Linked DNA regions of Homo sapiens: regions 2, 3 and 4 are each linked to region 1. The links come from fine-mapping of genetic effects on gene expression. A gene starts in region 1. Each other region holds a variant in brackets. All regions are shown on one strand. Distances are between the middles of the regions. Region 1 holds the start of TM7SF3 (transmembrane 7 superfamily member 3). Region 2 overlaps FGFR1OP2 (FGFR1 oncogene partner 2). Region 3 has its middle 70 kb from the start of C12orf71. Region 4 has its middle 16 kb from the start of C12orf71.

Evidence for each region.
Region 2: its variant is fine-mapped to the expression of TM7SF3 in whole blood (TOPMed, PIP above 0.99).
Region 3: its variant is fine-mapped to the expression of TM7SF3 in atrial appendage (GTEx, PIP above 0.99).
Region 4: its variant is fine-mapped to the expression of TM7SF3 in atrial appendage (GTEx, PIP above 0.99).

Annotation. Positions count from the first base shown.
Region 1 is chr12:27,010,947-27,019,057 of GRCh38, reverse strand. TM7SF3 (transmembrane 7 superfamily member 3) reads left to right here and starts at 4,674. Exons shown (of 12, transcript NM_016551.3): 1 at 4,674-4,980. The coding sequence starts at 4,890. RefSeq lists a silencer at 4,482-4,981.
Region 2 is chr12:26,942,559-26,950,669 of GRCh38, reverse strand. The region is part of intron 1 of FGFR1OP2 (FGFR1 oncogene partner 2); the gene reads right to left. Among named protein-coding and RNA genes, the nearest start is that of FGFR1OP2, 8.1 kb to the right of the region's middle. The variant C/T (reference allele first, on the strand shown) is at 4,781.
Region 3 is chr12:27,148,480-27,156,590 of GRCh38, reverse strand. It overlaps the pseudogene LOC124902904. Among named protein-coding and RNA genes, the nearest start is that of C12orf71, 70 kb to the right of the region's middle. The variant G/A (reference allele first, on the strand shown) is at 3,542.
Region 4 is chr12:27,094,940-27,103,050 of GRCh38, reverse strand. It overlaps the pseudogene LOC124902904. Among named protein-coding and RNA genes, the nearest start is that of C12orf71, 16 kb to the right of the region's middle. The variant G/A (reference allele first, on the strand shown) is at 4,266.

The DNA of each region.
Region 1 (8,111 bases):
AGAATTAAAAAATACAGGATGAAGGTGAGATTAGAGTGGGAAAGAATGAATGGGCAAATTTCACAGAGGTTCAATCCTGCCTTTTCCCTGGATCCCCACTCCCAGCTCCATTTAAGGTATTTTAGGTTTTATTTAAAAAGCTAGGGTAAGTTTTTTCCCTTCCTCCTTCTCTCCCTCCTGCCCTTCCTTCCTCTTCTAAATTTTAACAGACTTTTGTTTTATTAGATACAGGGTCTTGCTCTGTCACCCAGGCTGGAGTACAGTGGCATAATCATGGCTCGCTGCAAACTCAAACTCCTAGGCTCGAACAATTCTCCAGCCTCAGCCACCTGTGTATCTAGGACTACAGATGTGCCCCACCATGCCCAGCTAATTTTTTTTTCTGGTTGTGTGTGTGTGTGTGTGTATGTGTGTGTGTAAGAATGGGGATCTCACTATGTTGCCTGGGCTGATCTTGAACTCCTGGTCTCCAGAGATCCTCCTGCCTTGGTCTGCTAAAGTACTGGGATTACAGGTATGAGCCACTGCGCCTGGCCTAAACAGACTTTAAGCCTCTAATGATGCATATCTTGGATTTGGGAATCTTTCAGTTTCTGCATTTCCTTTCAATACATAGGAAAAATGAACTAATCTGCAAAGCTGCTAAGCTTGTTTGCTTCTCAGCTCTCCAATGGAACTCTGACATGAGCATGGAACCCCAGCCAATCATCCTCCCAAGCTGTCACAATACTGTACTTAGAAGCCAAGGTAATGAGGCCCTGTTCTGATTGCTGACACATTTGTCATCAACTGTCATGCATGCACAGGCAACTGCAGGCCTGGGGAACTGCGATGCAAAGGTATGGAGGAGAGAGAATAGGCTCAGTTCAGGAAATTGAAATTAATTCAATGTGGCCAGCATGTAGAGGTCTGATTTTAGTTGCAGCAAGAACCTAGGGAGGTGAGCAGGAGTTGCATCACAAAAAGCATTTATGTGTCATACTCAGGAAGGTGGACTTATATCTTGAATGCTTTTATAAGAAAACCTTTAAAATTATATGTATCTTTTACAAAATCATAATTTCTTATTTAAAAATGATACACTTCAATGTAGAACTTTTACACAGAAATGTGCAAAGGAAATCATTCTTAATTTAACCACCTAAAGATAACTATTTTAAACATTTTGGCATATATTTTTCAACCTTTTTTTCTATGTACATAACCAGGAATGCATACTACAAAGAAAACAAGGCAGGCACAGTGGTGTGAGCCTGTAGTAGTCCCAGTTAGTCTGGAGGCTGAGGTGGCAGGATTGCTTGAGTCTGGTGACAGACCAGGAGCACCGTCATCTCGGACAAACACCGCCACTTTAAGTTCCAGCTCCCTTTCTAGCCTCATGCATTTCAAGGAAATCACTTCTCTTCTAACTATAAGCAGCCAGAAAGAGCAGACAGTAAAACACAGATAAGACAGCTCAGGCACAAAGGGAGGTGGGGGGAAATTCTCTTGGGTAACTGCCAAACTTCACCCTCATACAATGGGCCCCAGTAAAACAGTGGGCCTTAGTAAGTACATTCCTTTCCCTTCAGGTGCACTAAGATAGGGAAGCTAAAAGCAGACTCGGGGGTATGCCTGCAGCTGCAAAAAGATGTATGGGAACAGACACACAACTCTCCCTCCCAGATAAGCACAACAGACACAGAAGCAGTCCAAGCCTCTGATAAACTCTCCCACCCTAAATCCTTAAAAACTCTTATTAGTCCGTAAGAGAGTGTGCCTCTAACCTAACTGGCCAGAAGCCCCTTTCAGGTTTGTTTTCTCTAAAATAAACTTGTCCTTGACTTCTAAGCCACCTTTCCTGTTTCTTTCTTCTTTAATTCTTACATCTGGGAGTTTAAGGCCAGCCTGGGTAACATAGTGAGATCTTGTCTCTTAAAAAAAAATTACAGGCCGGGTGTGGTGGCTCACGCCTGTAATCCCAGCACTTCAGGAGGCCGAGGTGGGCAGATCACAAGGTCAGGATTTCCAAACCAGCCTGGCCAACGTGGTGAAACCCCATCTCTACTAAAAAAAAATACAAAAATTAGCCGGGCATGGTGGTGTGTGCCTGTAATCCCAGCTACTTGGGAGGCGGAGGCAGGAGAATTGCTTGAACCCGGGAGGCAGAGGTTGCAGTGAGCCAAGATTGCACCACTGCACTCTAGCCTGGGGGACAGAACAAGACTCCATTTAAAAAAACAAACAAACAACAAAAGTATCCATTCCTCTGAGTCAATAAAAGATGTATGTTAAAAAAAAAAAAAAGCCACGTACTATATATACTTATTGCATCATAACTTGCCTTTTCATAAAGACTTCAATCAGAATATAAATGAAGGGCTGCACAGGATCCTCTTATAAAGCTCTATCATAGGTTATTTAACTCCTAATTGTTGGGCATTTAGGTTGTTTTAGATGTTTCTGCTACTCTAAATAATACTCTATGAATAGTTCTGTACACTATTTTTTTTTAAGAGATGGGGTCTCACTATGTTGCCCAGGCTGGAGGGCAGTGGCTATTCACAGGTGCAATCATACAGCACTGCCCTCTTGAACTCCTGGGCTCAAGTAATCCTCCTGCCTCAGCCCCCTGAGTATCTGGGACTACAGGCGCATACCACTTCCCCCAGCTTATACTAATTTTTATATGTGTATTTAATTATGTACTTAAATCTAAAAGTGGATTATACCAAATCTACAAAAATAAGATTTTTAAACATTTTTGATGCCGATTACTTTATTAAAGTGTATATTCCCAGTATCCCTACCTAAGAATGCCTCCTTCTTAGCTCTTTTATCCACACTGGATGTTTTATACTTTTAAAATGTTTACATCTTAGTTTGTTAATTTGATTTTTTTATTTGTTTACTAGTGAGATTGAACTTTTTTCATGTATTTACTGGTAATTTGTATTTCTTTTTTGGGGTGAAATTCCCCATTCATGTCCTTTGCTAATTTTTTTTTTTTGGTCAACTTGCCTTTTCATATTGTTTGTGTGTTTACTTTAATAAAATTTAAATATTTATGTAAAAAGCATTTACGTAGCCAAGTCTACCAATCTTTTCCTTTATGGTTGTTTCCTTTGCTGTTTTGCTTCTTAGAAAGCTCCTCCCATTTTGAGATCAATTTATTAAAAAAAAAAAAGAGCGCCCTCTTCTGCTAGCTCTTTTATGGTTTTATTACTTTGGGATTTTGTTTTCACAATTAGTGTGAGATAGAGTTCTGCTTCTCTCTGCCCATAGTGCAGCTAATCAGTTAAGAACACAATTTATTGAATAATCCATCCACTGATTCAGATGCTACCCTTATCATAATTGTCCCTTTCATCTTCCTTGGATTTCATCTACTGAGGGTTATAGGAATAGGGGCATGTGGGAGAGTGAATAAGCACTACAGAAATAGATAGTGCTACCAAAGGTGTGAAAATTTGGACCAGGCAGTGGGAAAGCAGAGAAAGAATTGTGCCTATGACAAAGATTATTTGCTTGGCCAAACTCTAGTACGGCTTCTGAATCTTCTGCTAGGTCCATCTGTGCACTTCTTTGTAAAAATCCAGTTTTAGCAAAGAACCCCCTTTCCTCCATATCTAATCAGTTTTCTCACCCTGCACCATCCCCCAGGTGATGTTATGTCTTCAGAAGTCCTGTTAGGTCAGTTTCACCAAATGCCCCTTACCTCTGATGCTTCCTCTTAGTAATTTTCCATCCACTGAACTCCATACTGCTGGTTGGCTATAAATTCCCTCTTGCCCACGCTGTATTCGGAGTTGAGCCCAGTCCCTCTTCCCCACTGCAAGACCCAGTTGCAGTGGTCCCTATGCCAATTGAGACAGTCCTCAATAGTCTTCGTTCGGTGCTTTAACAAGTATCATTGAATAATTTTGTCTTTAACACTTCTTCACATTATGGTCACAGCTATATATTGTTAGCTTAGTAGTGGACTAACTGAACATGTAATTTCCAAGCTATAAGTTGCTCATCAAAATATATAAGTGAAAAAAATTAAAACCAGGGAAGGAAAGCAAGACAATCCTCCCCAAATAACGTTAAGTCTATGCGTCTAATTCCACATCATCGATGAGCCATCTGTCACATGGACTACTGTCCCTCAAACAGCACTCAGGTATGAGACTTGAGACGAAGTTCAGACCAAGGCCGTGTCTTCGAGGATATTTCGCTTAGAGAAAACGAAACTACTTTTAAATGTAGTGCTTATGACTAGTGCGGTAACCACTACACAAACAGCATTCTCCTGGCATTTTTATGCTAACATAAGCCTCAGCAGCGAAGACAATTGCTACCGGGGGAAATAACCTTCAATTGTGTTTTTAGCAACTGATTCCTCTTTTTTGCTGTTGTAAAGGGCCGTTAAACACGGAAACAGGAGCCTGGCGACGTTAGTCCGCAACAGAAAGTTATTTTGTACTTTCACAGTGGGTTTGCCTACTTGGTGAGATAAAAGTGGGGCAAGACCGGGCCTCAAGCCAGGACTTCCTGGGGGCTCCCGGGAGCACCGCAGGCTGCGCGTTCCCCGCGCGCCGGCAGGAGGCGCGCGCTGCCTGGAAACGCCCCAGCGCCGCCCGCGCCCAGAGACCCGCCGCTGTGACGCAGCGAGAGCCCGGGAGGAGGCGCGGGAACGCGCGTTGGGGGTCAGGTGCCGGAAGAGGAAACCTCTCGCTGGGGCTAGGAGTTCGGCGGGGCGCGCGCCGGCGGCTGCGGAGCTGGCAGGTGCGAAGCGTCTGCACCTGGCGGGCGATGGCGCCCGATGCGGGCGCCCCGGGATAGCGTGGGCGAGGCTGCGGGGCCCCGGCGCGCACGCCCGCACCTCTCCCCAGCCCTGGCGTGGGCCCAGCCCGGCCCAGGCAGCAATGGGGTTCCTGCAGCTGCTGGTCGTAGCGGTGCTGGCATCCGAACACCGGGTGGCTGGTGCAGCCGAGGTCTTCGGGAATTCCAGCGAGGGTAAGGTCGGGGCGCCTGGCTTCTGCAACCCAAAGTTGCTTTTGCATTTCTTGCGAGGTCAAAATCCGCCAGGGGTCTGTCAGCCTAGCAGGGAGATGGTGCTGGGGGCGTTGGTACACGCTGGGTGGTGAGTCCAGAACCGGCACGAATGGTGTTTCCTGCAGCGGAAACACTCATGGCTAAGGAGGTCTTACTATTAACCTCCTCATTTAGCGGAGGAAATGGGAAGAGATAAATAATTCTCTTTTTTTAACACAGTATTATCTCCCTTAGGGAGCAGCCATGTTTGTGGCTTTAATTCAACTTACTAAAGCGCCTCTTTGCTGCCCAGTGGACTGTCTGAGCTTCTGGACAGCAAGACTTGGGGTGGAACTAGCGGCTTAATGACTGATGGCTCTCAAGCTGCATGGAATTTTTACACCCCCAAATCTAGAGGCTTTTCAAACTGGTTATGTTCTACAGAGTTTGAGAGGGAAAATGAACCCATAATGAGGCTTTATTTTTAAAGAGCCTTTACCATCTAATTTATTAATACCATCTGGAGACAGGAAAACATTCCATACTCACAATGAGAAATAAAGGACTTTCTGAATTACAGATACATAGACATACAGATAGAATGTGTATACCCTCAATTCTACAAGTTCAGCCACAAATGAAAAATAAACACAGAAACACAAAAGCTTGCCAGTCCAGGTATCAGAGTTGTTCTCCTTACTTGAGGGCAAGAAATTTCTAATCGATTTGACCTTAAAAAAGACAAATGGACAAAAACTGTGTTCTCTGTTGTCTCATATCCAACAGGAAATAGATCTCTATGAGATATTAATTCGTTTACAGAGATCACAAAATTCCCAATCATTGCAGCTACCAACAGGAAATAACTTGTCATCCATAAATGAACTGTAAAAAATAACAATTTAATAGAGAGTAAAACTAAAATGAGAAAAACAAGAATCAACGAAGTTCTATTGCCACTTCAAATTCACCTGTGGGAGCCAAGAAGCAACATGCCCGGGCTTGGCTCCCTATGAGTACACCATTTTTGATGATTTCAGGTGACTTTTTTTTTTTTTTTTTTTGACGGAGTCTCGCTCTGTCGCCTAGGCTGGAGTGCAGTGGCATGATCTTGGCTGACTGCAACCTCCGACACCCGGGTTCAAGCAATTCTCCTGCCTCAGCCTCCAGAGTAGCTGGGATTACAGGCGCCCGCCACCACACCCAGCTAGTTTTTGTATTTTTAGTACAGGCGGGGTTTCACCATGTTGTTCAGGCTGGTCTCGAACTCCTGACCTCGTGATCTGCCCGCCTTGGCCTCCCAGAGTGCTGGGATTACAGGCATGAGCCACCGCGCCCGGCCGATTTCAGGTAATTCTTGTTCATCTCAGTGAGAACTCAGAATGGGATGTTAGATTGTAAGTCTTGTGCTTGGTGAATGGGTTTGGGCAACAGCTCATGGTTTGTTAATATAAAATGTAAAAGGCACTAGTTGTGCCAGGCAGATCATCATGTGCTTTTCCATGAAACTAAGCACATTCTGTTTTGTTTTGAGGTTAATAGACTAGTTGCAGTTCTGAAACATAATATTTTCTGAATAATGTGATTGTGTTGCTATGCACTTATCTTTGAAAAGCCCTTGTGCAAACTGAATTCTAGGATCTTTGTATATAGGACTGAGGCCAAAGCTGAAAAGGGCAACTTTTTTTTTTGCAGAAAAACCTTGCTTATAATAGGGCACTAACATTCACTCTGTATAGTGTGTGCCAGGTGCTTTCCACGTGCAGTGTTATTTAATCCCCACCACCCTACAATGTAATGATCTTCCTCCCTTGTCAGAGGAACAAATGAACAGCTGCTAGGGTTACAGATAGGACTTGAACCCAGGTGAGTCTCCCTGCAAATTTCATAGTCCTTCCACTTCCGTAAAGCTGTCTTCCAATAAGAATATCTTACATGGCATGGTGCTTTGTACTTAATCCTTCTGTGAATCCTCATTCTTCAAAATAGCCTTATGATGGAGGTAGAAGAGATGCTATCTCTATTTTAACAGGTGAAGAATTTGAGATATTAGAGTTTTTAGTTGATCGAGGCCAGCCCCTGAGTCAGGAGAGCAGGCGTCCAGAACTTTTTCTTTCTACTTGGTGTTAGTATTTAATACCTAGAAATTTTTATACAAAAGTTAAAAAATATGAATAAATTGAGAAATTAATTTTTTTCAGACACTGCTTTTTGCCTCTTTGCTATGATTATAGCACTGATATTCCTCAATGTTATTCTTTTTGCCTTGCATTGGTATTGTCATTCTGTGCAGAAGAGGGACAATGTGGGGACTTAACTGCTGAGTGATAATAAAAGCTGATATTCTCCACATCTATCAGCTAAAAATCAGTATAGAAAGGTAGAAGGACATAGTTCAGGACTTGCATAATCCTCCTAGAAAATGGCTGGATTGATGTTTGATGATGATAATTCTGATAACCATACAAACTGAAGAAATTGAGCATCTGCTGTAATTTAGGAGGATTTACCCATCTTTGGCAGGATGAGCTAACTTGCATGACTTCTGTAGTGGCCTGAATGCTAAATAAATCTTGGAACGTGGCAGATGGAGTTCCTAGAATGTCTGAGGAGGGTGCTTTCTGTGACCAGTAGGCACATGAGATGGATCATACTTTTAAGCAGTTTTCCCTTCTCTTGGAGTCCCAGTTCACTGCTGCCTTTAACATCTTTCATTTGTTTAGATTCATATCCAGTAACTCCCGTGGAATTTCATAGTAATTGGACTTGAGCACAGCATCATTTGGGCCTTTCAGTCTTCTTGCTATTGATGATGCTTTACCAAGGTAGCAGGCTGTTCATGGTTAGTTGCAAGTGCTGTCTTTCTCTAAAAAGTGTGTGAAGCTAATATGTTCATTTTTGTGTTCCCTTTCAACCTTTAGGGCTATTGAACATTTGTAAGAAGATAACAATGAGAAATTGGGAGGGGCGGTTGACTGCTGACCAACTCAAGTAGCTGAACCATTTTTGTTTTTAATGTGAAGAGAATTATGAAGACTAGGCTATGATGGATTTCTCTTAGAATTTGGTTGTTGTGTTGAAACACAAACAGTAGAAGTAAATTTTAGTAAAAT
Region 2 (8,111 bases), 68 kb after region 1:
TAACTGTGCTCCACTAAGATGGAGCAACTTACTGAAAGTAAATATATACATGAATAGGTGATATGCTTTTAGAATAATCCACTTCTCTGAAATGCTGCAAAGAAAAGAGGTTTCTCAGATATCCTTTTAAAAACAATGAATACAGGGCAGGTGCGGTGGCTCACGCCTGTAATCCCAGCACTTTGGGAGGCCGAGGCGGGTGGATCACGAGGTCAGGAGATCGAGACCATCCTGGCTAACACAGTGAAACTCCGTCTCTACTAAAAATACAAAAAAAAAATTAGCCGGGCGTAGTGGCATGCGCCTGTAGTCTCAGCTACGCAGGAGGCTGAGGCAGGAGAATAGCGTGAACCCGGGAGGCGGAGCTTGCAGTGAGCCGAGATTGTGCCACTGCACCTCCAGCCTGGGTGACAGAACGGGACTCTGTCTCAAAAAAAAAAAAAAAAAAAAAAAAAACAACGAATACATTAACTACTTGATGGCTTGATGGTAGCTGCCTAATATAACTGCTATCATAAAGGTAGAAACAATATTGTAGATACCATAGAAATACCTTAAAGTTCGTTACTATAAGCGGGATGCTTTGACTAAATGTCCTTATGCAAAAGCCTCATATGAAACTGTAAAATAAACCCATGAAGAAGTTAAAAGACTCCATGATAGATACACAAAATTTGGCCTGTCAAATTTCAAAAGAACCATTGTGACCATCAAGTTGTAAGATCCATGAAGATAAAAACTGACATAATCAGAATGGCTACTTGATAGTACCACATAACACCTCAAACAGGGCCAGGCACGGTGGCTCACTCCTGTAATCCCAGTACTTTGGGAGGCTGAGGCAGGTGGATCACCTGAGGTCAGGAGTTCGAGACCAGCCTGACCAATAATGATGAAACCTCATCTCTACTAAAAATACAAAAATTAGCTGGGTGTGGTGGCATGCGCCTGTAATCCCAGCTACTCGGGAAGCTGAGACAGGAGAATCGCTTGAACCCGGGAGGCAGAGGTTGCAGCGAGCCAAGATCGCATCATTGCACTCCAGCCTGGGCAACAAGAGCAAAACTCTGTCTCAAACAAAAAAAACCTCAAACAGATACTACTCCATGAAACATTTCATTTAAGTAGAAAAAAATGGCCACAATATTAAACACGAATGGGAAAACTTACCTTGGATAGCATAGGATACTGGTTAATTCATGCTTCATTTGTAAATAAATTAATCTGGAAAAACTGTAGGCCAGGTGTGGTGGTGCACACCTGTAATCCCAGCACTTTGGGAGGCTGAGGTGGGTGGATCACCTGAGGTCAGGAGTTCGCGACCAGCCTAACATGATGAAACCCCATCTCTACTAAATACAAAAAAATTAGCAGGGCGTGGTGGTGCAAGCCTGTAATCTGAGCTACTTGGGAGGCCAAGACAGGAGAATCGCTTGTACCTGGGAGGTGGAGGTTGCAGTGAGCTGAGATCGCGCCATTGCACTCTAGCCTGGGCAACAAAAGCGAAACTCCATCTCAAAATGAAAAAGAAAAACTGTAATGGTGAATCAACGACTAAAACCATTCCTGAACAACTTTCTGAACATCTCTAAGAAGATTTTATGGAGTTGCCTCTCTCCATGGTTTAGAAATATTTATTATTATTTTTTTAAGTTTAGTTATTTTTAGAGGCGAGGTCTTGCCATCACCCAGGCTGGAACTCCTGGACTCCAAAGACCCTCCACTTCAGTCTCCTGAGTAGCTGAGACTATATAGGTGCATGCCACCATGCCAGGCAATATTCTTAAATATTCTAGTATGTTTACGTTATGAATACCTTAGAAGAGTCCCCTACCGAAAAGACACAATATTCACAATGACTAAAATACTGTATTTTGTGTATTCTCCCAAGCGCATTCTAACTTGTCATCCAATAATATAAAAACATATTTAACTTCAATAGTTGAAACTTATACATTTCGATGATGTAACACTTTGCTTCCTTCTAAGAAACCTTGTCTTCATCATTCCCAGTCCTCAGGAAACCCCAGGCAGGAGTTTCCAACAAGATCTAACTCCAGACACGTTGTAGTCACATTTCCAAAAACTAAAGACAAAGAGAAAATCTTGAAAGCAGCCAGAGAAAAATGACATATTACTCATAGAGAACAATTTGAATGACTGTAGGCTTCCCAACAGAAATGAAGGCCAGTAAAAAGTAGAACAACACTTTCAAAATGCTGAAAGAACAGACCTATCAACCCAAAATTCTATATCCAGCAAAAATATGTTTCATATATGAAGGTGAAATAAAAGTCATTCTCAGCTGAAGAGAAAGAAGAACTTATTTCCAGTAGACTTATTATAAAGAATACTCTTCAGTTAGAAGCAAAGTGTTATCAGAAGGAAACTTAGAACATCAGGAACAAAGGAAGACCAACTGAAATTGTAAATATCTGGGTAATTATTTTCCTCTTAGTTCTTTTAAATGTCTAATGTTTAAAAACAAGAATTATAACATTTATCTAATGAGATTTTTAATTTATGCAGGCAAATATATAACTACAAGAAAAAGGGAGGAGGCTAAAAAGGCCTATACATTGATCAGATTTCTACATTTCACTTGAAGTTGTAAAAATATCAATTTTAAGTAGACTTAAAAATTTACATATATTGTAATTCCTAATAAATCCCTAAAATAACTGCACAGAGATAATAGTCAAAACTACAATAGATTAATTGAAATGAATTAAAAAGTGTTCAATAACCCAAAAGACAGAGAAAAGGCAAAACAAAGGAATATCAAAGGAACAAAAAGAAAACAAATGATAAGATGGCAGAACTAAATCCAAACATGTTAATAATTTCACTAAATATAAATGTCCTCGACATTTATATTTAGATAAGATTAAGACAGATGATCAGAATTTTAAAAGAGGACCCAACTATGCATTGTTTATATAAAATTCACTTTAAATATGATATGGGTAGGTTAAAAGTAAAAGGACAGGCCGGGCATAGTGGCTCACACCTGTAATCCCAGCACCTTAAGAGGCCAAAATCGGAGGATTGCTTGAGCCCAGGAATTCAAGACCAGCCTGGGCAACATGGCAAAACCCTGTCTCTACAAAAAATTTAAAAATTAGCTGGGTGTGGTGGCACATGCCTGTAGTCCCAGCTACTCGGAACGGTGAGGGCGCAGTCAACCCTGGCTGTGCCACTGCACTCCTGCCTGGGTGACAAAGTGTGACCCTGCCTCCAAAAAAAAAGTTAAAAGGATGGAAAAGAGGATATACTGTACAAATATTAGTCAAAAGAAAACCAGAGGGCTAATAAGAACATGAAAACATGCTCAACATAACTAGCCATCACTGAAATGCAATTCAAAACCACAATGAGATATACCTACTAGGATGGCTATAATAGAAAAGATAGTAAGTGTTGGCTAGGATATAAAGAATGTGAAATGGTATAGCCACTTTGGAAAAGTCTGACAGTTCTTCAAAAGGTTAAACATGTGATCCAACAATTCCACTCCTAGGTACATACCAGGAAAATGAAAGTATGTCAATGCAAAAAACTGTACATGAATGTTCACAGCAATATTATTCAACTGATAAATGAGTAAATATGATGTGTTCATACAGTGGAATATCTGGCAAAAAAAAAAAAGTAGGGGGGAATGATGCCCTGAAACAGGCTACAACATGGATGAAAACTGAAAAAATTATGCTCAGTGAAAGAAGTCAGTCACAAAGACAATGTATCACGCCATTTATATAGTGTCCAAAAGAGGCAAATCCACAGAGGCTGAAAGTAGATTAGTGGATGTCTAGGACTGAGGGATTAGGAAAAGGAAGGAGGAATGGGAAGTGACTGTTAATGAACATACGGTTTCTTTTTGCGCGGGAAAAATGTTCTAAAATCAATTTTGTTGATGGTTACACAACTCTGAATATACTGAAAACCCTAAAAGTGTACACTTTAAATAGGTGAATAGTATGGTATGTGAATTACATATCTCAATAAAGGTGTTATATTTAAGAAAAGAGCTAGAGTGGCTATATAATATCAGACAAGGTCAGGCGCAGTGGCCCACGCCCATATAATCCCAGCACTTTGGGAGGCCAAGGCTGGCAGATCATGAAGCCAGGGGTTCCAGAACAGCCTGGGAAACATGGCCAAACCCCACCTCTACTAAAAATACAAAAAATTAACCGGGCGTGGTGGTACACACCTGCAGTCGCAGCTAGCTGGGAGGTGGAGGTAGGAGGATCACCTAAGCCCAGGAGGTTGAGGCTGCAGTGAGCCACAATCACGCCACTAAACTTTAGCCTGGGCAACAAAGTGAGACTTGCCTCAAAAAATAAATAAATATCAGACAAAGTAAACTTCAGAGAAAAGAAAATTACCAGGGACAGAGGAACATTACATGATGATAAAATGCCCAATCACCAAGAAGACATAAGCATCCTAAATGTATATACAACTATAATTAAAGAGCTTCAAAATACAAATGCACTAACTCAAACAACTGAAGGGATATATAGGCATATCCACCCTTACTGCTGAAAAATTAAACATTCCTTTCTCAGTAACTGGCAGACTTTGTACACAAAAATCAGCAATATAGGCAAAATGAACAGCATCCACTAACTGGCTTGAATTGATATTTATGAAATGCTACAACCAACAACAGCAGAGTACACATTCTTTTTAAGTGCTCAAGATATTCATGAGGATAGATCACATCCTGGATCACAAAACAAACCTTAACAAATTTAAGAGAACTGTAATCATA[C/T]AAATTATGCTTTTTTTTTTTTTTTTTTGAGACGGAGTTTCACTCTTGTTGCCCAGGCTGGAGTGCGATGGCACATTCTCGGCTCACTGCAACCTCTGCCTCCTGGGTTCAAGCGGTTCTCCTGCCTCAGCCTCCCGAGTGGCTGGGATTACAGGCTCATGCCACCATGTCCGGCTAATTTTTGTATTTTTAGTAGAGATGCGGTTTCACCACGTTGGCCAGGCTGGTCCTGAACGCCTGACCTCAGGTGATCTGCCCGCCTAGGCCTCCCAAAGTGCTGGTATTACAGGCGTGAGCCACCACGCCTAGCCAGTACAAATTATGCTCTCTGATTATAATGAAATTAAACTAAAGTAAGTAATTAAGAGATAACAAGAAAAATCTCCAAACATCTGGAAGTTAAACAATGTACTTCTATATAATAAGTCAAAAAGGAAGTTTCTGGAAATTAGAAGATACTTTGATCTAAATAAACATGAAAATACAAAATATCAAAAATTTTGGCATGTATGTAAAACTCTACTTTGAAGCAAATTTATAGCATTAAATGTTTATATTAGAAAATTAGAAAGATCTCAAATCAATTATGTAAGCCTCAACCTTTAGGAACCTGGAGAAGAAGAGCAAAATAAACCTAAAGTAAATAGAAAGAAATAATAAAGAGTAGAAATCAACGAAATTGAGAACAAGAAAGCAACAGAGAAAACCTAATGAAATAAAAAGCCAGTCCTTGGAAAAAAATAAAAATTGAAAAACCTCCTGAAAAATTAACCAAGAAAAAAAGTCAGCAGACATAAATTACTAATGGAAAGAAGGGATATCAGGAAAGATGAGACATCACTACAGACCTCTAATTCCTTAAAAGGATAAGTGAACACAATAATAAATTCCATACACATGAATTGGATAATTTAAATGAAATGGACTAATTCCTCAAAAAACACAAACTACATAAAGTCACACAAGATGAAACAGACAACTATGAATAATCCTATTATAATTATTTTAAGAAACTGAATTTGTAATTAGAAATCTTCTGCAAAAAATCTCCAGACCTGGATGGCTTCAAGGACAAATTCTATCACACATTTAAAGAAGAAATAACACCAATTATTATACAATCTCTTAAAAAAATAATAGAAAAGGAAATACTTGTAATTTTAATCTCATAAACTGATGTCAGTATTACTGATACCAAAACCAAAGAGAATACAAGAAAACCACAGACTAATATCCTTCATTAACATAAATAAAAAATCCTTAAGGAAATATTAGTAACTCAAATTCAGCAACTCATAATGAGAGTAATATACCCTGACCAATGGGAGTTTATCCCAGATTCAAGGCTGTCTCCAATGTAATCCACTGAAGAAGAAAATCACTTATGCATACCAACTGGCATATTATTAAAAAATTCCGCATACTTTCATAATAAAAATTTTCTGCAAGCTAGAAGAGGATTTTTTTAAACTGAGAAAGGGCATTTTCAGAAAACTTACAGCAAACGTCATACTTCATAATGAATGACTGACTGCTTTCCCAATAAAATTAGGAACAAGGGAAGGATGTCTGCAGTCACCAGTCCTGTTCAATACATTGGTGTAATAAGGCTAGGAAGGGGGGAAAAACCATACAGGCTGGAAAAGAAGAAATAAAACGGCCCCTTTTCACAACCAACATTGTTGTCTATGTAGAAAACCCCAAAGAATCCAAAAAAGAACTCCTAAAACTACTACATGATTTTAGCAATGTCACAGGATACAAGCATAAGAATCAACTGTTTTTCTATATACTGGCAACAAACAAATGGAAACCAAAACTTTTTTTTTTAAAACACACATTTACAATAGCAAAACAAAACAAAACAACAACAACAAAAAAACACAAAAAACAAACCCTGAGATTCCTGGGCACAAATTAAAACATATGCAAAATTTGTTTGCTGATAACTACAAAATGCTAATGAAAGAAACTAAAGAGGATCTAAAAGAATGGAGAAACATACTGTGTTCATGGACTGGAAGACTCAACATAGTAGGGAAGTTTTCTTTTTCTTTTTTTTGAGACAGAGTCTTAGTCTGTCGCCCAGGCTGCTGGAGTGCAGCGGTACGATCTTGGCTCACTGGAACCTCCGCCTCCTGGGTTCAAGCGATTCTCTTGCCTCAGCCTCCAGAGTAGCTGAGATTACAAGCGTGCGCCACCACGCCCAGCTAATTTTTGTATTTTTAGTAGAGATGGGGTTTCGTCATGTTGGCCAGGATGGACTCGAACTCCTGACCTCAAGTGATCCTCCTGCCTTGACTTCCCAAAGTGCTGGGATTACAGGTGTGAGCCACTGCACCCAGCCGAAATGTCAAGTTTTCTGTAACTGTTGTACAAACAGTGCAATTTCCAGTCAAAGTCCCAGCAAGATTTTTTTAGAGAAATTGACAAGCTAATTCTAAAATTAGCTTGGAAATGCAAAGAAACTAGATAACAACAAAACAACTATGAAAACAAAAAAAGTTGAAGAAACTATTTGTTTTCAGTTTTTTTCACACTACCAAAGTTTAAGACTTACTATAAAGCTACTTCAATCAAGGTGGCATAGAGCTGATAGAAACAGAAAAGGTTTAGAGACAGGGCCATACAAAAATGGCCAATGGATTTTTGAAAAAGGTGCAAAGGCAAGTCAAAGGAGAAAGGTTGGCTTTTTTCAACAAATGGTGTTGGAAGAACTGGACATCTATATGCCAAAAGTTTAATCCCAACATAATTCCTACACTTAATACAAAAATTAACTCAAAATGGACCATAAGTCTAAATATAAAATTAAAAACAATAACACTTTCAGGAAAAAAATAAGAGAAAATCTTTGTGACCTGGGGTTAGGCAAAGGTTTTTGTAAACATGATACTAAAAGCATGATTCATAAAAGAAAAATTTGATAAACTGGACCTCATCAAAATCACAAACTTTTGCTCTGGGAAAGACACTGTTTAGAGAGTTTGAAAAGACAAGCTACAGGCTGGGAGAAAATATTTCAAATCACTTATCCAACTAAGGACTTGTATCTAGAATACAAAAAAGTCTCTCAAAACAATAAGAAAATAACCCAAATAAAAATGAATAAAAGACTTTACTAGTGAACCAAAAAGATATGGACAAATAAGAAACATGAAAAGATGTTCAACATCATTAGCCATTAGAGAAATGCAATTAGAACCATCATGAAACCTGTCCTCTTAAAATGACTATCTATTTCTGCATCAATACCACATTGCCTCAAATGTAACAGCTGTAAAATAAACTCTCCCTATCTAATATGTATAAGTCACTGTTTTCTTCTTTA
Region 3 (8,111 bases), 140 kb before region 1:
ATATTTTAATCATTTGTTCTCATTTTTATCGTACATTAGTTGTGGAGAAGTAGTGTAGTGTTGGTTTGTCTTATGTAATCTGACTTTTAAAACAACTCATTATACTAAATTTGAGAACTGAGGTAGATATTTTACAGATAAAATAATTTTTAATTATGTTTTTTGAATCTAGCAAGTAACAGAAATAAAAAGTTTTAAGGGATTATTTGTGAGGCAAGATAGATAACTACTTAGATTGGATAAATTTTCCAGGAGCCAGAGAGAAAAGTTATATATAATATCACCTTACCATTACTGTTATTAGGGAGATTTTATTAGGTCACTTCTGATTTTTGCCCTTCTTCAAGTGTGACTTTATTTATCCTCAAACGGACTTGTTGGTTTCTTCCAATCTCATCTCAGGCTTAAGCAAAATATTTGCGTGTTCCTCCTTTTTTTTCTTTTTTTAACTATGTTGAAGATTATCCTTCCTCTCTCATACTAAGAATCATAAACCTAAGAGCCAAAATACAGTACAACAGGAAACTAATAATTTGATATGTTTAAAATGTACAGATTTGAGGGATGTCGTCTGATTTTTGTTCCCCAACAGAACTGAAAAAAACCCATTTCTGCCACTTGTCGAATCAACTGTTAACCTTCTAACTCACACATTTTTCACGTATTAGAAATACCCGTTTTAACCTTGCTAAGTCTGTGCAATCATCTTCTCTAGCTCTCTTGCTTCTAAGAGGAATTCCCACTGGATTATTGAAAACTTTCTGCTTTGCTTTCCTTAAATCTGTTCTCAGATTTAGAAAAAAAGGTTCTGAAAAGAAGATGACCCAGTTTTCTAGAGTGAATAAAACTTTTCACACCACAGTGGAAATCTTACAGTATTTTTTTCAAAGTTGTAAGACGGTGAGGAAAGGGTATCTTTTTCTTCTTATTAGAAGTATTGAATAAAAGATATATAATATGTCAAAAATCTTACTTAGAAAATCTATGAACCAAAAATCTGTAAAGACAGCCCAGAAAACTACAAGGAGGTTAAAAAAAAGAAAAAAGTGAGGCAAAGCCTCTTTCTCTTGTAATCTAGCTTCTCTATGTATTGAAAGACTCAACGTGGCTTTCTATTTCAAATCTTACACTATGAAGACATTTGATTAACCAACGATATTAGGTTAATAAAATATTTTACTCAAGAAAACAGCCCTCTTATACCATATAAAAAGAGAAAAATATTCAAATAGAACTCAGAATAGAAAGTACTAAAACTCTTTTACTCTATGTAAGGAAATTACCAGATTTTTTTTTTCTGGAAGATTGGTAGTTTTTCATATTCTTTCTCATATGCAGTTCCCCTTAAATTTATTGCCCTTTTATCTTCTGCTAAATCCACAAGAAACATTTTAAAGATATTCTCTCACAGTACCTAAAAAGTTAACTAAGTTTTTTCTACTGTCTCCATAATCCATTCCAATTATTTACTTTTAAATTTTTAATTCATCCATTTATGTATTGATTCACAAATACTTATGGAGTGCCTACGATGTTTCAGTGACTGGGTTAGGCTCTAGGGATACCACGTATGGTGAGCATGAACAGGCACAGCTCACACACTTATGGAGCTGATAGGCAAATGAGGTACTCAGGTATGAATCAAATGATCACATTAGCGGAGGCAGAATTATGAACTGAGGTTCATGTTCTGAAAAAAAGAACAGTCTCAGAGAGTGGACCCTCACTTAGAGTAGGGGACAGGGAGAGCTTCCCTGGGCAAACAAAACAAGGCATCAAGAACCAAAATGAGGCTGAGCCTAAGATTTAATTTCCTTTCATAAAAACATTGCAGGAAGCCAACCACACTATTAATTCTAAAGGTGAGCAGAACAAAATTTCATCTGAACCCATTTTCTGACCAAAAGTGTTTCTTCTTTTCTCATAGAAAATGGTTAGCATATCTCATCGAAGCATTATACAGAGTACTTTTTTGTTACCTGGCTGTTTCCATGTATCTAAGTAAGAAAAAGAGTGAAAAAAATTCTCAGCATTTTTTCGCCATTTTGTTTCTCTGTCAAATAAATTATCTTTTTCAAATATTTTCTATATAAAAAGATGTTTCATTGATTCTTATTTGCAAATCTATTCCACAATATTGCTATTACAGATTCCAATTTATTCTTTTTCACCCTCTTTGGAAATCTGTAACTATATATCAAATTACTACTCACTTATGTTTCATTAAATGGAACAACTTAGATAATTTTTATTTCTACTTGTTGCTTTAGTACTATTTTAAAATCATTGTGAAGAAGATACTTTTAATTTATTTTTTGAGACAGGGTCTCACTCTGTCACCCATGCTGGAGTGCAGTGGTGTGATCTCAGCTCACTGCAGCCTCCACCTCCCAGGCTTAGGCGATCCTCCCACCTTAGCCTCCCGAGTAGCTGGGTCCACAGTCACACACCACCATAACCGGCTAATTTTTTGTATTTTTTGTAGAGATGGGATTTCACCATGTTGCCCAGGCTGGTCTTGAACTCCTAAGCTCAAGTGATCTGCCCGCCTTAGCCTCCCAAGGTGCTGGGATTATGGGTGTGAGCCACATGCCCAGCCAGAAAATACTTTTATATCAGACTTTCCCTAGAACTCCAAATATATTTGATCCCTTTTTACTTGGTTGCTTTTATCTGTTGCTTTTATTTATTTTGAAACAGGGTCTCACTGTCGCTCAGATTGGAGTGCAGTGGTGCAAATCATAGCTCACTGCAGCCTTGAACTTCTGGGCTCAAGCAATCCTCCTGACTCAGCCTTCTGAACACCTGGAATTACAGGTGTATGCCTCATGCCCAGATAATTTTTAAAATTTTTGTATGGATGGGGTCTCGTTTTGTCCCTAAGGCTGGTCTTGAACTCTTGGTCTCAAGCAATCCTCCAACCTTGGCCTCCCAAAGTGCTGAGATTATAGGCGTGAGCCACTGTGCCAAGCCTCTTTTTATTTTTTTAAAGTTTATTCTTATTACAAAGCAAATACATGTCCTATAGAGAAAATAAGATTTTCAATAGTAAAATACAATAAAAACTTACCAATCCTGAACCAGAGATAACCACCATTAATATTTTGTTGTATACCTACATATAACTATATTTTTATATAATTTACTGGGTTTTCTCAGGATTTTCATGAAGTAGTTGAGTAAGCAAAAATGACAGCACTTTTTTCTTGGTTATAATTAATGATCTATTTACGGATTTTTTTTTTTTTTTTTTGAGATGGAGCCTTGCTCTATCATCCCAGGCTGGAGTGCAATGGCATGATCTTGGCTCACCGCAACCTCCGCCTCCTGGGTTCAAGCAGTTCTCCTGCCTCAGCCTCCCGAGTAGCTGGAATTACAGGCACGCCACCATGCCCAGCTAATTTTTGTATTTTTAGTAGAGATGAGGTTTCGCCATGTTCACCAGGCTAGTCTTGAACTCCTGACCTCAAGTGATCTGCTGGCCTCGGCCTCCCAAAGTGCTGGGATTACAGGCATGAGCCACCGCCCCTGGCCTATTTCT[G/A]GATTATTATTTGATTCAAATTTTTGTCAAATATCAAATTCTGTAAACCCTGAGTAGCTATTGTGTGGCTATTACAAAAATGGCATGATTCTTTTCTAAAACTATCACATAAATCATATTGGTACTATGTTAAAAAAATAGAGGTTTGTCTTATTTCAGTTATTTTACTCTAATTTTTATCTTTATTTTAAATTCTACTGGCTTTTTCCCTTATCTCATAAATTTCATATTTTTGCTATCAACACAGCATTTCAGTCTGTGGAGATCATTAGGAATCTCATTTTAGCTAACCCTCCTATTTTTGTGTCATCAACAAACTTAAAAATAATCTCTTCAAAGCCTTCATATAGATCATTAGTGAAAATGTTGAACATTTTGTAGAATATGTTAAGGCTGCCTAAGGGACAAGGACCAAGAGCAAAGTTGCTTCCTAACACAACTCTAGTGAAGACAACGGAAGGAAAAATAAGAAAGAGGCCAGTGGAAGCAGTAAAGACTTATTATGGTTGCATAGTTGGAAGTCCAGAATATGAGAAAGGAGAGAACTAAACCTACACTGCATATAAAAAACGGCACCCGCGGTGCCAGTAGCAAGAGAATCGGTGGAAGAATGCAGAAACCAATTCAAACAAATCTGTATAAATATTTGATGGTACATAAGGGAGGGCTATATATGAAATTGCAAAAGGTTGCATGTAAGTTTGTCTGGAATATTACAATAAAAATACATGCTTTTCAGCCAGGCTCGGTAGCTCACGCATGCAATTCCAGAACTTTAGGATGTTGAGGCAGGTGGATGGCTTGAGCCCAGGAGCTTGAGACCAGCCTGGGCAACATAGTGAGACATCATCTCTACAAAAAATACAAAAATTAGCTGGGCATAGTGGTGCATGCCTGAGATCCCAGCTCCCGAATATAGGAGGCTGAGGTGGGAGGATGGCTTGAGTCCAGGAGGCCAAGGCTACAGTGAGCTATGATTGCACCACTGCACTCCAGCCTGGGTGACAAAGTGAGACCCTGGATCAAAAAAAAAAAAAAGATACATGCTCTTCAGAGCTATTTAGAAGATGGAAGGAAGACTATTAATGATCCTTGCATCAGTGCATATGCTAGCCTACATGACACCTCTGTGTGAATTTGAAAAAGATGCCTCTTCCTCCTGGCTGACATAGCCCCACACAAGGACTTAGCGCTTGACAAGGAGAGCACAGGTTGAACCACAGCCCTCACTCACGCCTTAGCCAGGTGCCCCCGTGCACTGATCAGTGAGGTTTGCTGGGTCTCTCCACACCCCATTTCAGCTTTGCTAGCTGGCTCTCTGTTAAGCTCTGATGATAGGGGGGCTAGAGGGAGACTGAAATGTGGGAAGAGGAAGGAGGGACACACTTCATCCTGTGAGCTTCCTGTTTGCTTGTGGTTCTTGCTACTGGCACCCTATTAACTCTGCTTCACCATAGCAGCAGTTGGATCCAGTTTTCAGTTTCCCTACCACCTGCAGAAATAACTGGACTGCACCCCACCTCCCCACCAAGAGACACCAGCACCAAACCCCTCTTCAGAGACAGATCCCAGCTCCAAGAGACACTGCCTCCAAACTCAGAGACAACACCACCAACTGAGCAGTACCTTTCTCCTCAGATGTCTGAGTTTCAGCTTCATGCCGCTGCTCCTCTAAGTTTCTACATTTTAAGAATTCCAGCCTCTTACTTTTGTTCCCTCAGACCTAGAGGCGATTAAGAGTTCCCTGCAGTTGCTACCTCTGTAACATCTTAGATTTTTCTTTTCACCTTTTTGGTTACCAGGTTGACAATTTTATATTTCATTGACAATTCTTTTTTTTTTTTTTTAAGACAGTCTCACTCTGTCACCCAGGCTGGAGTGCATGGAGTGCAGTGGCTCAATCTCAGCTCACTGCAACCTCCACCCTCCCCACCCTGGGTTCAAGTGTCTGGCCTGTTGACAATTCTTTATATTAAATTATATTTATTGGTTGGGCGCAGTGGCTCACGCCTGTAATCTCAACACTTTGGGAGGCTGAGGTGGGCCAATCACATGAGGTCAGGGGTTCCAGACCAGCCTGGCCAACATGGCAAAACCCCATCTCTACTAAAAATACAAAAATTAGCTGGGCATGGTGGTGGGCGCCTGTAGTACCAACTACTCTGGAGGCTGAGGCAGAAGAATTGCTTGAACCCAAGAGGCAGAGATTGTAGTCAGCCAAGATCACACCACTGCACTCCAGCCTGGGCCACAGAGTACATGAGACTCTGTCTCAATAAATAAATATAAAAAATAAAAATTATATGTATTCAGGTAACTCTGCATAGTTCCTGTCTCTTGACTGAACCCTGAGTACACAAAGGAGAAGACAAATTAGAGCAATAAATCATCATAATCTATATACATTATTTTTCTTCAGGCATTACTTGGACTGTTCTAACATCAAAACTGCTCGATAAGAGGAAACAACTTTCCATCAGACTCGAATTGGGGATTCTTGCCAGAATTAAGGCTGTCACATACTGAAGGGCTAGCTGGCTTAGTTGGACTCCTGGTAGGAGAATGATAAACCCAGCCTATATCTTTCCAAAAGGGATGTACTAATCAGAAATAGGTTATTCTGCAGTAAACACCAGTCCTCTGACTAGTGATGGCTTACAGCAATTAATGTTTCTCTCTCTTGGAGGTTTCATAACAACTGAGGATCCATTACACCTTTGTTCTATGGCTCTTCCCCAAATATCTTTTTCATTTCATTGGAGACCTAAGCTGAAGGTATTGCCCCTACCCTTGTCTCACAGCAGAGGGAAAGGAATAAGAGTGGAATCATGCAATGGCTCACAAGCCTTCTGCTTGGAGGTGGTGTAAGTCACCTCCTCTTGCATTCCCTTGGTTAAAGCAAACCATATAGCCAAACCTGCTATCAGTGGGGCATTTTGGGTTAAGAGTTAACAAAATCTTTTCTCTGCTGTGTATGAATTTTAGCTTTAGTTAACATTCTAGTTCTGTTCCCCTAGAACCAGATTAGAGTACTATGTTAACAGTATTACTCAGCAACATTGCTTATAATAAAAAGGATCTCTGATTGGAAATTGCATCTGGAGTGGGAGGAACTATAAATGCACCATAAATATCTGATGGAGATTGTAGCTTCTAGCATCCTTGAATGTGCTGACTGTTTTAATTGAGTATGTGTAGTGATGCCAGAAATGACACATCTGAAGTTTGTTACAGGTGATATTGGCTCCTGTAGGGAATGAGACCTTAATTCAGGGTGGTTCCTGCACTTGCCTCATATGCATCACACCTTCATGCATTTGAGTTGTCTCTGGGCAGCTGCATAATTTGGAGGGACACCTGACACCACCTGTAGTTAATTGTGGTTCCTGTCTCATGTTTTCGTTTTTCTTTTCTTTCTTTCTTTCTTCTTCTTTTTTTTTTTTTTTGTCTTGAGACAGTCTCACTCTGTCACCAAGGCTGGAGTGCAGTGGCACGATCTCGGCTCACTGCAATCTCCACCTCCCAGATTCAAACGATCTTCCCACCTCAGCCCCCGATAGCTGGAATTACAGGCACCTGCCACTATGCACAGCTGATTTTTGTATTTTTACAAAAATTCACAGTGTTGGTTAGGCTGGTCTCGAACTCCTAACCTCAAGTGAGCTGCCCTCCATGACCTCCCAAAGTGCTAGGATTACAGGTACGAGCCACCACGCCCAGCCCTGTCCCATGTTTCTCTGAGTGAATCTGATGCCAAAGAGGTCTATGGTAGTTTTGTGAGTTTGAATCTTGACCTGAACATAATAATAGGTTTGATGCCATTGTGGGCACTGTAGGCAGAAATTCACATTCTGCCACAAGACATCAATATAAGAATGGATGTTCTTCTAACTGAAAGATGAACAGATAATTAGAAACAATAACAGTAGGAGGATTCTCCTAGAGGACCTAGGTACTTTTCATTAGACAACAGATTCATAGAAAACTACTGATCAATAGAGGAAAAATGGAAAGAGAAACACGTTTGTGGCTCAGAGAAACCTCACTTAGAAACCTGGCTCTGCTGCTTCCTGCCTGTAACCTGGGTGAGTTGCTTTACCCCTCTGAGCATAAGAATTCTCATCTATAAATTTACTATTTTTTTCAGGCATTTTTACTAAAAGAAAAAACTCAATTGGAACTCAGTTGAGAAAAAAAAAAAAAATCTAAAAGGGCACGAATGGTCCTGCAATCTAATGGACTTGAGTCTCCAGGACTCTTTCTTTGCCCCATCTGCAATTTTTTCAGTTTCTTGGCTTCATTCAATCCTACTCCAGGGACAGGATTTCTCTGTAGGACAGAGATGCTGCCAGCTCTGGCTTACATTCTTACCATGGGTATATATGACCCTTTCAAATTAATGATTTCATTTTAAAATGTAACTAAATGCTCTCTTACTATCTTACCTGTCTTCACTGAATTGCACTTCCTTATTTTAAAGGGTGATTGTTCTGTCATTTCCAGATTGAAGACAATCCTTGCTAGAGAAGTTGGGAAGAAAGAGTAAACTGATCATCATAAAGTTCTGCTG
Region 4 (8,111 bases), 84 kb before region 1:
GGTGATTGATAAGTGCTATGGGAAAAATAATGAAGCAAGCAAGAGGAATAACATTAACATTAGCTTACTATGTACCGGGCACTGTTTTTTAGTGCTTTTCATATATCAATTCAATTAATCTTTACAATAACCCTAATGACACGATACTTATCCCCACTTTATTAGTGATCAAACTGAGGCACCAAGTCACACAGCTAGAAAAATGATGTGAAGTCAGACAGTCTGGCAGCAGAGCATGTCCGCTTAATTATATACTGTGCCAGCTCTTCGTGCAGAAAGGGAATGGCAGGGACTTAGAAGTTTTGATCTGATAATCAGGGAGGGCCCCATTGGTAAAGTGACATTGATTAAAACCTTGAAGAAGGTGAGGGGAGAAAGTCACAGGAATATCTGGGAAGAGATTCCAGGGAGAAACAACAGTAAGTGCAAAGGCCCCGAGGAGGGGGAGCTTCATGTAGTTGATGTTTGAGGTCAGTGGGCTGGAAGGTGGTGAGCCGGGGGGTTAGTAGGGAATGTGGTCCCAGAGGCACAGAAGGTGTGGTGGGAGTGGTGCGGTAGTGGGATCTGGGGCCTCACAAGCCATGGCAGCCAGGCTTTGACTTCAATTGAGCATGGAGATGGAAGGCCACTGGAGGGTTCTGAGCCAAGGAATGACATGATCTGATTTCTGTTTTATGAAGAATCATTCCTGGCCGGGTGCAGTGGCTCACGCCTGTAATCCCAGCACTTTGGGAGGCCGAGGCAAGCGGATCACGAGGTCGGGAGATGGAAACCATCCTGGCTAACACAGTGAAATCCCATCTCTACTAAAAATACAAAAAAAATTAGCCGGCGTGGTGGCAGGCGCCTGTAGTCCCAGCTACTCGGGAGGCTGAGGCAGGAGAATGGTGTGAACCCGGGAGGCAGAGCTTGCAGTGGGCCGAGATCGCGCCACTGCACTCCAGCCTGGGCGACAGAGCGAGACTCCATCTCAAAAAAAAGAAAAAAAAAAAAGAAGAAGAATCATTTCTAAGAACACACTGCAGGTGTGGCAAAGATAAAAACAAGAACAGTCAAAAAATGACTACAACAATTCAGATGAGAGGTTCTGTTGGTGGCTCGGGTCAGGGTGTGAGCAGTAGAGATGGTGATTGGACACTAGCTATGTACGTATGTGTGAATACACATATAGTAAATATGTATATATACATACATAAAATGCATATTGCTATATATATATTCTGAATATAAAATGTATATTACCATACATATTAGGATGCATTACACATATGAATTAAGTTATAATTTAGAGAGTAAAATGCACAGCTCTTTGCTGCACAGTTTGATGCATTCTGACAAATGAACATACCCCTAACAAGATAGCAACGTTTCTATTGCCTTGTGTATATTTTTGTTATAAACGCTAACAGAACTTGATAGAGCATTTGGGAGAAAAGATGAACTCAAGACTATGGCCTAAGCCATAGGAGGATGGAGTGGCCATTTACTGAGGCAAGTAACTGCCCACTCTCAACTTCTGAGTATGACAGCATTTCCTTCATCCACCAAAGGAAGGAAACAGGAGGAACTATAAAAGTATCATCTAGGTGAGTCATTACCCTGCCATCCTTTACACTGAAATTTGATGAAATACAGCCAGCCCTCCATATCCATAGGTGCCCCATCAGTGGATTCAAACAACCATGAATAGAAAATATTTGAAAAAAAATTGCGTCTGTGACTAAACAGGTACAGACTTTTTCTTGTCATTATTCCCTAAACAATACGACAAAGATTTACATAGCATTTATATTGTATTAGGTGTTATAAGTAATCTAGTGAGGATATAAAGTATACAGGAGGAGATTCCAAGGTTTTAGGCAAATGCAATGCCATTTTATATCAGGGAATTGAGCATCTCTGGATTTTGGTATCTGTGGGAGGTCCTGGAACCAACCCCCCATGAATACCCAGTGACAACTGTGCCTGGATCTTATATATAAAAACTGAATGTCATGGCAGAATACTCAAGGAAGATTACCACATCATCAAGTACTCCTATAGCACTTGTTGTCTCTCCCCACACCCATTCTCTCTCAGCCTCTGTTACCAAGTACCATATGGAACCACGGGTTATCTCTAATAGATGTTATATTTGGCTAAGGAAAAAGTATGTCTCTGGCAAGCAGTCTTGCCTAACCAGGTCCTTGGAGTGTTGCCTGTACTAAATCAAGCTTTTTAAGGACTAAGGACCCATTCTTAAAATTTCTATACCAGATCTATGGCAATGAAAAGGGTGAAACTCAGTAAAATATCTTGAAAAGATTTATTCTGAGCCAAATATGAGTGACAAATAGCCCATGACACAGCCCTCAGGAGATCCTGAGAACATGTGCCCAAGGTGGTCAGGCTACAACTTGCTTTTATAAATTTTAGGGAAACATAAGGCATCAATCAATACATATAAGATCTACATTGGTTCAGTCCAGAAAGGGAGCACAACTAGGGTGGTTAGTTCCAGATCATAGGTAGATTCAGTGAATTTCTGATTGGTAATGGGTTAAAAAAGTTGTTATTATCTAAAGACTTAGAATCAATAAAAAGGAATGTCTGGGTTAAGATGAGAGGTTGTGGAGACCAAGGTTTTATCATGCAGATGAAGCCTCCAGGTAGGAAGCTTCAGAGAATAGACTGTCAATGTTTCTTATCAGACTTTAAAAGATTATTCTATCAGTAATTCCAAAAAGGAGGAGGGAATAATGAGTAATGTTGGGCTCCCCCTTCCCATCATGGCCTAAACTAGTTTTTCGGGTTAACTTTGGAATGCCCTTGGCCGAGAGGAGGGGTCCATTCAGGTGGTTGGAATTTTATTTTTGGTTTACACTTACCATGGTGATCATGAAATAAATAATAACTATTTGTATCCATCAAAACAAAACTATTCCTTTATCACCACCAAACATGCTTTGCAGTACTGCAGAGGAAAGAATAGAATATTAATGGACTTGTTAGACTCTGACTCTTTCATGTCTTAGAGTATCAACTTAGATTTTGTTTTCATTTCAATAAAAGTTCTGACAACCCATAACTTTAAGAAGAGAGGGAATGAGGGAGGCAGAGAAGCAGAAGAGAGGAAATGTGTTGAACTGTCTTGACAGGAACTTGAAAACTTGCTTTTACCACAGCTACATGTTGAGTGACATGGGCAGGGCTACCAAAAGACCAATATAGTCAGGATTTTCCACATTTTACTGTCTCATGACTAGTGCTCCAAAGTGACATGAATAAATTCATACATTTACTCATATACATAATTATATATATATATGTATAGTCAGCCCTCCATATCCACAGATTTCATATCCATGAATTTAACCAACCACAAATTTAAAATATTCAAAGAAAAACAAATACAAATTTTAAAATACAGTATAGCAACTATTTACATAGCATGTGCATTGTGGTAGGTATTCTAAGTAATCTAGAGATGACTTAATGTATATAGTAGGATGTATGTAGGTTATATGCCAATACTACATCATTTTATATAAGGAACTTGAGCCTCTATTGATTTTGGGATCCTCAGGAGAGCCTAGAAAAAATCTTCCATGGATACCAAGGGACAACTGTACTTTATTCACAGAGTATTTCTCATTTACCTACCAAAGAGTATTTCTCATTTGCCTACTCTTTATTCAAAGAGTATTTCTCATTTACCTACCTACCTACCTACTTTACTCAAGGAGTATATCTCATTTACCTACCATTTACCCACTTACCATGTACCAGAAACTGATCTAGGAACTGAGGAGCTTCCGTTTGATTGACCATCTCCAATTCTGTATTTGCTTCCAATTAAGTCCATCTCATGGACCTGGTGAAGGGATCCCACCTGCCAGAGACATACCTTTTCCCTAGCTAAGTACAGCATCTGCCTTATTTTTAAGTGGCACCTCGAAACTTGAGTATTCTAAGTGATCAGGGTATACATTCTACTTAATGGGGTGTTTATTTGAGCCTAAAAACAAGGCTGGGGAACAATATACTTTTCAAAGTTTTGCTATTTATGCCATCTGTATTGGATGTCTTTGAATTATCTTCATCTCAGGATGCTTCAATTCCTGCCCTCTATTAAAGAGTAATAGAGTATTAAAATTTATTTTTCCTTATGAAAAATAAGGAAGGCCCAAATGTGTAAGCAAAAAGTTAAAGAATTCTTGGGCTAGAAGGTTTTTTATTCTTTCCTTTTTAAAGTCTCATTCTGTCACACAGGCTGGATGGAGTGC[G/A]GTGGCCTAATCATGGCTCACTGTAGCCTCAACCTCCCGGGCTTAAGTGATCTTCCTGCCTCAGCTTCCCAAGTAGCTGGAATCACAGGTATGTACCACTACACTCGGCTAATATTTTTATTTTGGGTAGAGACAAGGTCTCCCTATGTTGCCCAGGCTGCTCTTGAACTTGTGGGCTCAAGTGATCCTCCCATCTCAGCCTCCCAAAGTGCTGCGATTACAGGCATGAGCCACCATGCATGGCCAAGGATGTCTTAATATAGTGATGAGAGGGGAAACTAACAGCTGCTAGGGACAAATATCTACTAAAACCATTTTACCAGGAGATAGGAAGAGAGATTAGTCCTAGAGTAGCCACCCTGACTATTCTGGACCTGGGGTGTGGAGTCCAAGGAGTAGTGCTTTATGGATGTGTGTGGGGAAGGCAAGGTCATTGTCTTCCCAAAGGAAGGAACTGGGAGCTATTTGATTGTGATCTACCCCAAGAAAGAGGAGGTAAAACTAAACACAAGAATAGTCCCTAGTGCTGGAGAGCTAGCTCACAGGACTGACGTCAAGGGCCAAAGAAATATTGCTGGGCCTGACACTTCAGCTCTGTGAATGAAATTTTTAAAACATCCTTACATCTAAGCTCTGATAGCATATCTACCCTGGAGAGAGTACTTTTGTCAATTCAGATATTGGAATTTATGTGTAATACCCAGGGTTTCTTATCTTCAGAGAAGTCAAATGCCAGAACCATCAGGTCACCAGATGGAAGATGGAAGGTCTGGGCTCCTCTCTTGGCTACCCAGCTCCTTGGGAGTTTCTGTTTTCCTCTAGGATTTTCTCCAACAGAAAGCCAGGCATGGCAATCAGGGAGAGTCTAACTGCAGTTTATGAAGAGGTTTTGGTCTTTGGCACTGAAATTATTCAGACCTAAAAGAGCCTCTCAAGCCACCTAATTTCTTCTAGAGATATGGGGTACCAAGCATTCCTCTGCTCAGATACAATCAATAGCTCATGCTATTCCACCCTGCTACAGGCTTAGAGAGGTATGGATGATGATGATGATGATGATGATGATGATTATGTGTATTATCTAACCCACCCTAAATTCTGTTTTCTGAAGGGATAAGCCGTTTTATTAACAGGTTACTGATATTTTGGAATATACTTGAGGAGAGACAAAATTTGACTCATTTAATAAAAAGGGAGACAATCTTCCATTCCACCTGATCTCTTAGGATAGGGGGAACAAAATATGGGTTGTATTTCAGGGCCCAGAAGCTAAGAGGGTACATACCAGTCACATTAGCACGTGACATGCTTCGGGAACAGGGAGTAGGGTGAGTTTTGAAGTACAGGTGGAGCTGGGCGCCATGGCTTACACCTGTAATCCCAGCACTTTTGGAGGCAGAGGCAGGAGGATCGCTTAAGCCCAGGAGTTCAAGACCAGCCAGGCAACATAGTGAGACCTTATCTCTATTAAAACAAACAAAAATTAGCTGGGTGTGGTGACACACATCTGTAGTCCCAGCTACTCAGGAGGCTGAGGTTGGAGGATCACTTGAGTCTGGGAGGTCGAGGCTGCAGTGAGCTGTGATTGCACCATTGCACTTCAGCCTGGGTGACAGAGTGAGACCCCGTCTCAAAACAAACAAACAAACAAACAAACAGACAAACAAAAAGCAATAAAGTACAGATGGAGCATACAAGTATGCCTGATGTCAGTGGGCTGCAGAGAGAGAGGCTTGGCAGATGCCTTGACCTCCCAGAAACTGGGAAAGGCCCAGAGTAGAAAAGGAAGATAGTATAAAAGGTGCTTCAAGAACCTGCACCTCTGATGGCATCCCTGGACAACATCAGAATGACCTGCTAGAAAAGCCAGCTGCAATTTCTTGGTATAAACATTCAATCCAAAGCACTGGAGAGCTGTGAATGTCAAAACTGCACAACTAAACGAGGCTAATGTGGAAAATGAGGGATATGCAAGAATGGCGTAACTAAAGCAAGATGTCAAGTGAAAACACACTACAGATCAACTAACTACTTTTAAAATCCTCAGAACTGGAATGTTAGACATGTTACAGGTCATGGACTTGAGGGGGAAAGAAGTGGTCCCCTTGTTCAAGGAGCTGCTGTCATATTTGCTTTCATTTACCTAATACTTTTTGGCCTAATGACTCATGAAACATGAGAGAGAGAGAGAGAGCAAGATAGAGTCAGAGAGTCAGAGAGCGAGAGAGAGCAAGCACAATGTTGACTGCAGAACTAATACCATGAGGTCTATTGGGTCTGGAAAAAAGGAATAAAATTCAACTACTTTATGGAAATAGGTTCAGTTTATATACAATTCCAAAATAAGCATAGCTAAAAAAACACAAAATAAATACAGCTTGATTTCTGAGGCTAATTTGTGTTGAGGTTCAACTATGGATGGTGTGATGGGTTTAATTGTGTCCTTCCAAAATTTATATGTTGAAATCCTAAGCCCCAGAACCTCAGAATGTGACCTTATTTGGATATAGGGTTTTTATACAAGCACTATATAGGCAACAATCTGCTGTCCACAATATATTCTTTTCAGTGACAACATTCAGCCAACTGCCTTTCATGCCCCAGTAATGAAATTCAATTAGATACAGCATATTTGGCAATTCCAGTATCATAACAAACATTTACAGACTGATTACTTGCTCCCAGATTCAAATTCTGTTCCTACTGAGAGATATGGCAATCACCTCCAGAGAGTGTCCATTAGAGTTTGAAATTACAAAGCAATTGTGCATGTGTGGTTGTTTTTCATACTTTCCTATATTCCCCGCCTCACCATTAGTAAAATTGAGGTACTTCCATAAACATAAAAAACAGAAAACTAACTGAACTCATATTCAACACAGAGTTAAAAACAAGAAACAAAACTGTCTCTAAGTCAATGACAAAAGTATAAGCAAAATCATAGCAATATTTATTCAGTGTTTGTTCAGGGAGAGGTTCATGCTAGGATCCTGGTAGAGACACACAGATATATGATATATACATCAAAGCAATCTAATGATTGATGAATAGTTTTATACGGCCTTTAAAAGTGATCAGTTTTAATTTGTATAGGATCATTCATACTCAGCAAGAATTAAGTCTCCTCCCATGTTTTCTGCTGCCAGCACTCAAATACTTCAAGCCATTTCCACAAGAGCAAACATGTCAGATGAAAAAACATTGTGCCTCTCCAACGAGGCCTTCCTCCACACAGTAAAACATCATGGTCTGGGCACTTTAAGTGCTCAGTGCCAAACTTAGATGCCAGCAGCTAGAGACACTCTAGGTTGTAAATCACACCTGGTCTTCAACTCTGAAAAATAGCTACAGAACTAGCATCATAGACAGAACCATGCTGGCTTGGAAAGGTAAATATACAATGTCATCCTAGCCAAATTTGCTTCCAAACTTGTTTTAATTTGGAAGCAAACTGACTGAGATCTCCAGAGGAGGTCACCATTCTGGCTGTGCAGGTCATGTCCTTCACAGAGTGTCTCACCCTGGGTGCACAGACGCTGAAATCCAATCCATGCAGCTTGGGGGCTGCATTCACCTGGAGGGGCACCATTTTCTAATTCGCCCAGGCTCTCCAAGGACAAGTAGTGGTTCTTTCCCAAGACCTTGTTTTCAAAAAGCAATAGACTGGGGCCATTTGTCAGTTTTAATCTTAATTAAAATGTCATCTGCAAGTGTCACATTCACCCTCTTCTCTATGGATACCCCTGGGATATTCATCTAGGATTATCTCCGTGAAGAGCAGTGGCTTTAAACACCTTCAGTTCAGGAAGTGAAACAGTCAGTGGGACCGGAGTGTAGAGAACAAAA